Linked DNA regions of Homo sapiens: region 2 is reported to be linked to region 1. Evidence: microRNA targets listed by miRTarBase, many of them from high-throughput screens and not tested one by one. Region 1 holds a microRNA gene; the other region holds the end of a gene's coding sequence.

What was found. Region 1 holds the annotated microRNA hsa-miR-6508-5p (UCUAGAAAUGCAUGACCCACC, at 1,952-1,972, opposite strand). A microRNA usually pairs through its seed, bases 2 to 8, with sites in the 3' UTR of a target mRNA and lowers its output. Matches are read on the target gene's strand: a 7mer-m8 pairs with bases 2 to 8, a 7mer-A1 pairs with bases 2 to 7 and ends in A, and an 8mer does both.
Region 2: the mRNA of SAMD9L is a reported target of hsa-miR-6508-5p. Seed matches in the 3' UTR shown: 7mer-A1 at 2,415-2,421.

Annotation. Positions count from the first base shown.
Region 1 is chr21:39,444,986-39,448,985 of GRCh38, reverse strand. MIR6508 (microRNA 6508) reads right to left here and starts at 1,976; the gene lies at 1,917-1,976. The region is part of intron 8 of GET1-SH3BGR (GET1-SH3BGR readthrough); the gene reads right to left. LCA5L (lebercilin LCA5 like) reads left to right here and starts at 3,208. Exons shown (of 11, transcript NM_152505.4): 1 at 3,208-3,261. It also overlaps a transcript of SH3BGR not described here. RefSeq lists a silencer at 3,038-3,297.
Region 2 is chr7:93,127,738-93,131,737 of GRCh38, forward strand. It overlaps SAMD9L (sterile alpha motif domain containing 9 like), which reads right to left. Exons shown (of 5, transcript NM_152703.5): 5 at 2,319-4,000. The coding sequence ends at 3,480. Among named protein-coding and RNA genes, the nearest start is that of SAMD9, 12 kb to the left of the region's middle.

The sequences.
Region 1 (4,000 bases):
GTCTGCAGCTGTTTATCAATAAAGAATGTTTATAAGACCAGTCCTTTGTCCAACTGGAGTTGTAGTAGGTCTGCAAGGCGTTTGGGGGTGGGGGCGCATACTGAGGGAGGGAATGTTTCCATTGGCTGGCATCAGGCAGTCTATCGGGGTCAGTTGGAAATTTTCCAGCTGAAGTTGTGTTGGCTATGCTTTTTCGAAGCTGGTTTCTGCTTACTTAATAGCAGTTAATAATGCAAAAATACGTAACTAACCCCTCATCCTTCTGGCTGTGACATTCTGGAGGTTTTGTTTTGTTTTGTTGTTTGTTTTTTGTTTGTTTCTGTCACCAGGCTGGAGTGCAGTGGCTTGATCTCAGCTCATTGCAACCTCCACCTCCCACATTCATCTCCTGCCTCAGCCTCCCGAGTAGGACATTCTGTTTTTGGTGCATCTCATTTTAGGAAACAGGAGTTCATTTTGTCCGTCTGTTGGAGTATATTTTAACAAGTCAAATAACATCACTTTTTGATTTGATTAATTTTGATTTAAAGACATGAGGTACTGGGCTACAAACTTCATAGAGACCCCCAGATGATCTCATGATAAATGATACCAGATGATATGTTTTGATTTACATAACTTTACAGATAACTTAAAATGACAAATAAAGACACGTCTTTATTATGTAGAATGATGGAAATGATTACCATAATAACTGTAGTGGGTTGAATATTGTTCACCAAAATTCATGTTCAGCCAAACCTCAGCATGTAACCTTATTTGGAAATAGAGTCTTTACAGATGTAATCAGTTGAGGGGGTCTTGTGATTAAATCATCCTGGATTTAGGGTGGGCCCTAAGTCCAATGACTGGTTGTCCTTATAAGAAGACAAGACAGGGAGACACAGAGAAGAACACCCTGTGAAGATGGAAGCAGAAATTGGAGTGGTGCTGCCACAAGCCAAGGAATAGCAGGAGTCCCCATAAGCTGGAAGACTCAAAAAATTCTCCCTAAGAGCCTTCAGAGGAAACATGGACTTTCAGACAACTTGGTTTCATACTTCTGACCTCCAGAAATGTGAGAAGATAAAGTTCTATTGTTCTAAGCCCCTAAGTTCGTGGTAGTCTGTTATGACATCCCTAGGAACCTAGGAACCTAATATAGAGAAATAAAGGCTATGCTTTTTATGTGGCATGATGGAGATGGCCCCAGAATAGTGAAAGGCCATGGCTCTTCTCCTTCCATTGTGTACACAGAAAAGAACACCCCTTCGAAAGCAAAAGCAAAGGCCAGGCACGGTGGCTTATGCCTGAAATCCCAACATTTTGGGAGGCCGAGGCGGGCAGATCACTTGAGGTCAGGAGTTCAAGGCCAGCCTAGCCAACATCGCAAAACCCCATCTCTACTAAAAATACAAAAAGAATTAGCCGGGTGTTGTGACTCACACCTGTAATCCCAGCTACTCAGGAGGCTGATGCAGGAGAATCACCTGAACCCAGGAAGCGGAGGTTGTGGTGAGCTGGGATGGCGCCACTGCATTCCAGCCTGAGCGATAGAGTGATACGTCTCAAAAAAAAAAAAAAAAAAAAGCAAAAGCGAAAGCAAAGAAAGATTCAAGGGCAGATTTGCAGTGACTTATCATGTCTACAGACTGGGAAAAGCTGGTAGAAAAGAGGAGGAAACCATTCTCAGGAAACTCTACCTTTCAATTCCTCCAGTCATGAGCTCCAGGGTTGGATGCTCCCGCAATGGCAAAACTCCGCTCTCGTTACTGTCATGGGGCCACCACCACCCACCAAGCATCAGCCCATCTTTCCATAATGTCAAGTCTAGAGTGACATTTGTCTAATGTTTGCCTACCTGGAGATGTTGCCCCGCCCACCACCACCAGCAAAAACAACCGGCACCCATCTTATACGGATAATTCCCTACCTAAGGAGTTCTAGAAATGCATGGCCCACCAAAACTCAGGGTGGGTCATGCATTTCTAGAGGAAGAAATGGTGATATGGAGAGAAAGCTTGTCCTAACCCACTTCTACCAAAGTAGGATTAAAGTCAATTTGAAAAAAAACACCCGTTTCTCCTTTTATATAAAAACCAAATGCAGAAACTATAGAGAAATGTAATAAGCTTGACTCTACACAAATACCAAAATACACTGTAAACAAAATTAAAGGTAACTGACAAATTGAGGAAATATTTGCAACGTATATCACAAGCCAAGTTTTCAAGCATCAAAAGTCCTTACAAAACCCATTTTTACAAAGATGAATGTCAAGTTTTAAAATGGACAAAAGACAGGAAAATGCAAATCACACAATAAGGACAAATGGCACTCAAGATATGGGAAAAAGTCTATTCTTCCTACTAAAAAGGAAGTGAATACAATTAAAGATGCCAATTTTTGACAATAAAATGGGCAAAAAAATTTTAAGAAAAAAGAGAATTTCCAATGCGGGCCAAGTATCGGGACACTTACTGGAAGGCAGTTTCCCTCTACCTTTAGAAAGCCTCAAAGTGAGCATATGCTTTGGCCCTGCAACCTCGCTTGTAGGAATTTATCCTAAGGAAACAGTCAGGGGTGACCTCAAAGATTCATCTGCAAGGATATTCAACATGGCTTTGATGCAGGAAAAAAAGTAAATAAATAAAAGGAAACAATGTAAGTCTTCCTAAATTATGCCAAATTCCTATGCTGTCATTAAAAAACATCTATAACTCCATCATCTAGGTGATTTTGACTTTTGCTTTGGACTTGCCTGTACATTTCTAAATTCTCTATGCCAAACATGCATTGTTTTGTCATCAGATTTTGTTTTACAAAAAAAAAAAAAAAATCGTCTTTATGACAAGGGGTTAATAGGGGAACTGTGCTTCCCAGGAATTGACCAGGCGTCTACACCCACCTACTGACTCAAGTTACCTAAGACTGACAGAGCCTTAAGAGGTCAGGAGAGCGCCAGAGCGCGTGACAGGCTCCCTCGTCTCGGTGCGGCCACGCGGGAAGGCAGGGTCCCGGGCGCCGAACAGGGACGGCAGGAGGATCGTTTACAGACGTCTACACAAGAAACTCACTTCCCGTCACCGAAGACAAACGCGAGGCCACACTGACCTCCAGGCCCAAGACGCCCCTCCCCGCCGCGGCTCCTGCTGCCCGAGTGCGCATGCGCGCGCCCAGCCCCCGCAGGCCGGCGCTTCCCAGGAGGCCCCGCGCGCGGGTTTCCATGGGGACGCGCCGGCGCTGCGGCGTTGGCGCAGTCGTGGGAACAGCGCGGAGCAGGTAACGGCCCCGCTGCTGCCGTCGTCCCCCTCAGCCGGTTACCCTGTTACAGCCCCAGCTCTGGGCCCTTCCGGACCCTCCTGCTACGCTCTTTCTGGGCTTCCAGTATCGCCGGTCACTCAGTCCTCGCCCCTGCCTGCCTCGCTGGCGCCCCGCCGTTTCCTCCTCGCGGCACAGTTTGCCAAGGAACAGCTACCCCGGCTCGGCAGTGACCGGGCGCCCCGGCGACACACGTACTCTCAGGCCCGCTGGGCAGGGGGACGGCCTGGGCCGAGGTGACCTAGCGCTCCCGGGGCCGCGCCTGGGTCTGGCGAGGGGGCGGAGGCCGATCTCACCGCCGCCCCACCGAGGGAACTTTGGGGTTTTTCTATCTGAATCTTCTATCTGACCTCCGATTTTGCCTCTGCTTACTTGCTGTTTTGCTTTGGATTAGTTTTTCTTTCTAACCTTAGCGCTGGCATCTCCCTATCTCGTAGGAATCTAAATCTTTTGAAATGTCTTCTCTGTCTGTGTTTGTCCCCCACTCACCCAGCCTCGGGGCTCTTTATCCACACCCTCCCCTCAGCGTGTTAACGTTTCGTTGCCACACTTAAGCCAACGGTTAACTTTTTTCAGAGACCAGTTTTCACGGCTGAATGTGAGCTTGAGCCTTTTTTCTGTCTACACTCAATCCCTAGATGAACTCATCCAGTCGCCTGTACTCAGAGCCTATCTGAATTCCAGTGAGCCCCAAGTGTGC
Region 2 (4,000 bases), not on the chromosome of region 1:
GTAACAGGACACAATTGGAGAAACTGGTTATTTTACCAAGGCTGTGACTGGAATGACATGCTTTCCTTTAAAGAATCAAACTTGCCCTAAAGAGCCAATAAAAGATTTTTGGGAAAACTGGCCTTATACCTTGTCTACACAGTCCCTGCACAGGGTTCCTGACCTGTGGTAAATAAAGAATGACACTTTATGACAGGCCCAGGGCCCCAAGTTATCTTGGGACCTCAAGGGGAGAAGAATTCACCCAACTCATAGGTATTTGATGGTATAAAACATGGCTGGGCAGTTTGAGGCAGGAGAATCACTTGAACCCAGTTGGCAGAGGTTGCAGTGAGCTGAGATTGCACCATTGCACTCCAGCCTGGGTGACAGAGCGAGACTCCATCGCAAAAAAAAAAAAACCCAAAAACAAAAAATAAAGGCTGATCTGAGATGCCTTCTATGGAACAAAGTTCCATCAAAGCCAATTTAAAAAGCCTATGTGAAAAATAATTATTCTTGCTGCACTTTATACAAATAATCTGGCTAAGTGCAACAAAGCAAATCGGTCCTACCATGATGTGTCTTTAGTAAAAATGGGAAACTGGAGAGAGAAAAATTATGTTTCAAAAACTATGGTACATCTGTTGTTGGATTCTAGTCTTGCCTAATATTTTTCAATTTTTATTATTTTCTACAGTTTGGGCTGAATTCTAATGTTTCTTGGGTACAAGTTTTCAAAATAATGTTTTCATTTTTTTCCCTTCTTTTTCCCCCCATTTTTCCTCATTTGGAGTCACTGAAAACTAAGTTGTGCTTTTGTAAAGCCCTGTGACCTGATGCTAGATAACTTAAACTTCAAAAGGAAATAACAGCAGCCTATTTACATACATAAGCCACTTTCAAACCTGCCTACTGATATACGGGCTTCAGAGTAATGTGACCTATATCGATTTACCAGGATTGTTCTTTTATATCTTGTAGTTTTTCTCTCTCCCCCTGTTTTCTCTGCATAGGACATGAGACTTCTCAACTTGCTAAAAATAAGCTTTCCTAATAACTTGGGACCTAACTGTCTAGGAATGAACCATTTTAGCCATGAGAGGCCAGATGAAACCTGAGACCAGAGACTCATTTTCTTCTAAAATGCTTTCTCCGAAGATTTTAAAAAAGATAAGGGGGGAAATGTGAAAGGAAAGTAAATCTTGAAAATCTTGGGCCCCCCAAAATCACTAACCTAAAGGGAAAAGTCAAGCTGGGAACTGCTTAGGGCAAACCTGCTTCCCATTCTATTCAAAGTCATCCCTCTGCTCACTGAGGAAAATGCATATCTGATTGCCTTCTTTGGAAAGGTTAATCAGAAACTGAAAAGAATGCAACTGTTTTTCTCTCACCTACCTGTGGCCTGGAAGCTCCCTCCCTTCTTGAGTTGTCCCTCCTTTCTGGACGGAACCAATGTACATCTTACATATATTGATTGATGTCTCATGTCTCCCTAAAATATATAAAACCAAGCTGTGCACCTTGGGAACATGTTATCAGGACCTTCTGAGGCTGTGTCACAGATGTACATCCTCAACCTTGGCAAAATAAACTTTCTAAATTAACTGAGACCTGTCTCAGATTTTTGAGGTTCATAAACTTCTCTGCAGAGTAATGTAAGACCTTCTCCTCATTAAGGGTGGGGTGACATTTTGCATATTACACTATATTTCTTTTCAGGAAGAATGTAATTATTTCTGGGGGCATCAAAGGGTTTGCATCCTACTCTCTAAGTCAAGCATTCACGTTTAGGTGTTGTTGCATTCAGAAGAATGAGAAAAGATCACTCTATAGCATGGCTGTTGAAATGGGGGCTAAGGAGAAGGAAGCTCTCTAAGATACCTGGTGGTGGGGTCAGAATTATTAACTCTAAAGATAATTATGGTTAGCAGGAATATTTAGTAGTTTTTCCTCCTTTCATTATAACTTTTTTCTCTACATCAAGCCTTTAGTTATGTCTTACTAAATGTTATAGTCCAGCAGGGGAGTTTAAAAGAAATAGGATCAGGCCTATGTCCCCAGGCCTATGAACAACTTGGGGAGTATAGCCACTTGGGAGATCCTGTTACTGTATGGACTGGTGGACTGCAGAAGAGGGAGGCAACTGTTTGGAGCAGGGTCAGCAGCAGACACAGCTTTCAGAAAGAGGGACATGTTCTGGACCATGTGAGCGTTGCCCAGATTCATAGAAATATAGGCCAGAAGAACCCTGATAGAGCATAGACTTCTTGATGACAAGAAGAATTGGGTTTGGAGTCCAGAATATCTAAGTTACATTACAAAGAGATACAAAGATGTGGATAAATAAATATATTTTTTATTCAATATTCAATTTAATCTATATTAGCCTATGTTTCACTTTATAGGCAATGCGTAGTTCTTAAATTCCAAGCTCTAGAATGCTGCTTGAGACTGTTCTGGCTGTTGTGCATCTGAGAATGAGCTTCTGGGATGGCATTCCTTGACACTGAAAACTTGAGAACACATATTACCATGAGGAAGCCCTCTAATCAGGCAGGAATGATGGTGGTCAAGGAAGACTTCCTGGTGAAGGTGACTCTTGAAATCAGTTGTGAATGACAAATCAGAATAGCAGGAGAGAGAATGTTAGATGGAAATAAGGCAATCTCAACAGAGAGAACAGCATGTATATAGCACAGGTTGAGAAGTAAAGGGAACAAAGAGGGTAATGAATGGAAAAAATAAGCCAGGGGAGATGGGATCTAAGAAACAGGTGGAGATAAGGCTGTATTCACAGGAGACAAAAATGGCTTAAAGGAAGAGATTCACCTGTAAATGGGAACAAGAGAATGGAGAGAGTTCAAGTTTATGATTACTTTATTTTTTGAACTCTTCTCTCTCCTGGAGCAATGAGCTGGGAGAAGGGCAAGGGGTACAAGGAGTGTGTGTGTGTGTGTGTGTGTGTGTGTGTGTGTGTGTGTGTGTTGGGGAGAGTGTTATGTGGTGGATGGGGAACAATATATTTACCTTCCACATAAGTTTTTATTGATACCAAGATGAGGTAAATAGAACTCTGGTGTGGATCTGTGGGTTTGAGTCCAATAAGCTTTCTCTTTTACATTCATCTTATTTAAATCTTTGCTGTCACAGTGAAGAAATAATTTAGAAAACTTATAAAAGCAATTGAGTTTAACACAGATTTTATTGCCCTATAGACAGTTATGATGTGACCAGTGGATATCAATGAAACTTCTTAATTATTTGAGTCTGAAAATGCATATTTAAAACATTAAAAGATTGACTCCACTTTGTGCCAAGCTCTGCGGGTAGGCATATTTCATATCTTAAAAAGGCTTGTAATTCATTCAGGGAGGCAAAAGCAAAATCTGTAATTAGAGGTTAGCCATAATGTTATGAAAGTGCCATGAGAATAGAGAGAGAGAATAAAATCATAAAGATATAAATAAACGTATTTGAACTACAGGTGATGTATTGTCTTAAATTACTTCTATATCATATGCCAGAGGGCCTTCAATGGAAAATCCTAGGTAGAAAGACACTCTTTCTATGTTCCTACCACTTCTGAGTGGACCTGAATAAACAGATATTACTGGTATTTTTATTTTTTCCTCTGTTCCATATTCTACAGAGATTAGCTTGCCTTCAGCCTGACCAGTTAGACGACGCAGGAGGTCTTTGACTTCATTTTTTTTCCACACATCCCCACTGTGCCAGAGGGAATTTGTATTTTGTGCTTTATCAAAGTACTGCTCTATTTTGGCCTTGTGAACAATACTGTTTAGACCCTTCCTTTTGCCCAGATAGAAAAGTGTGCTTGCCTGCTTGGACCTGCACATGCGCTTGTACTGTCCCCTGAAGGATCTATTTAAGGATGAAACATACTTTTCTATTAGTTTGGAATCTTGATCTAGCTCTTGATTTTCTGGCCAGAACAGGAGGCAGGCCAAGAAATAAGGACCTGGATATTGATGACTTAGTCCTACAAATTGCAAGACCT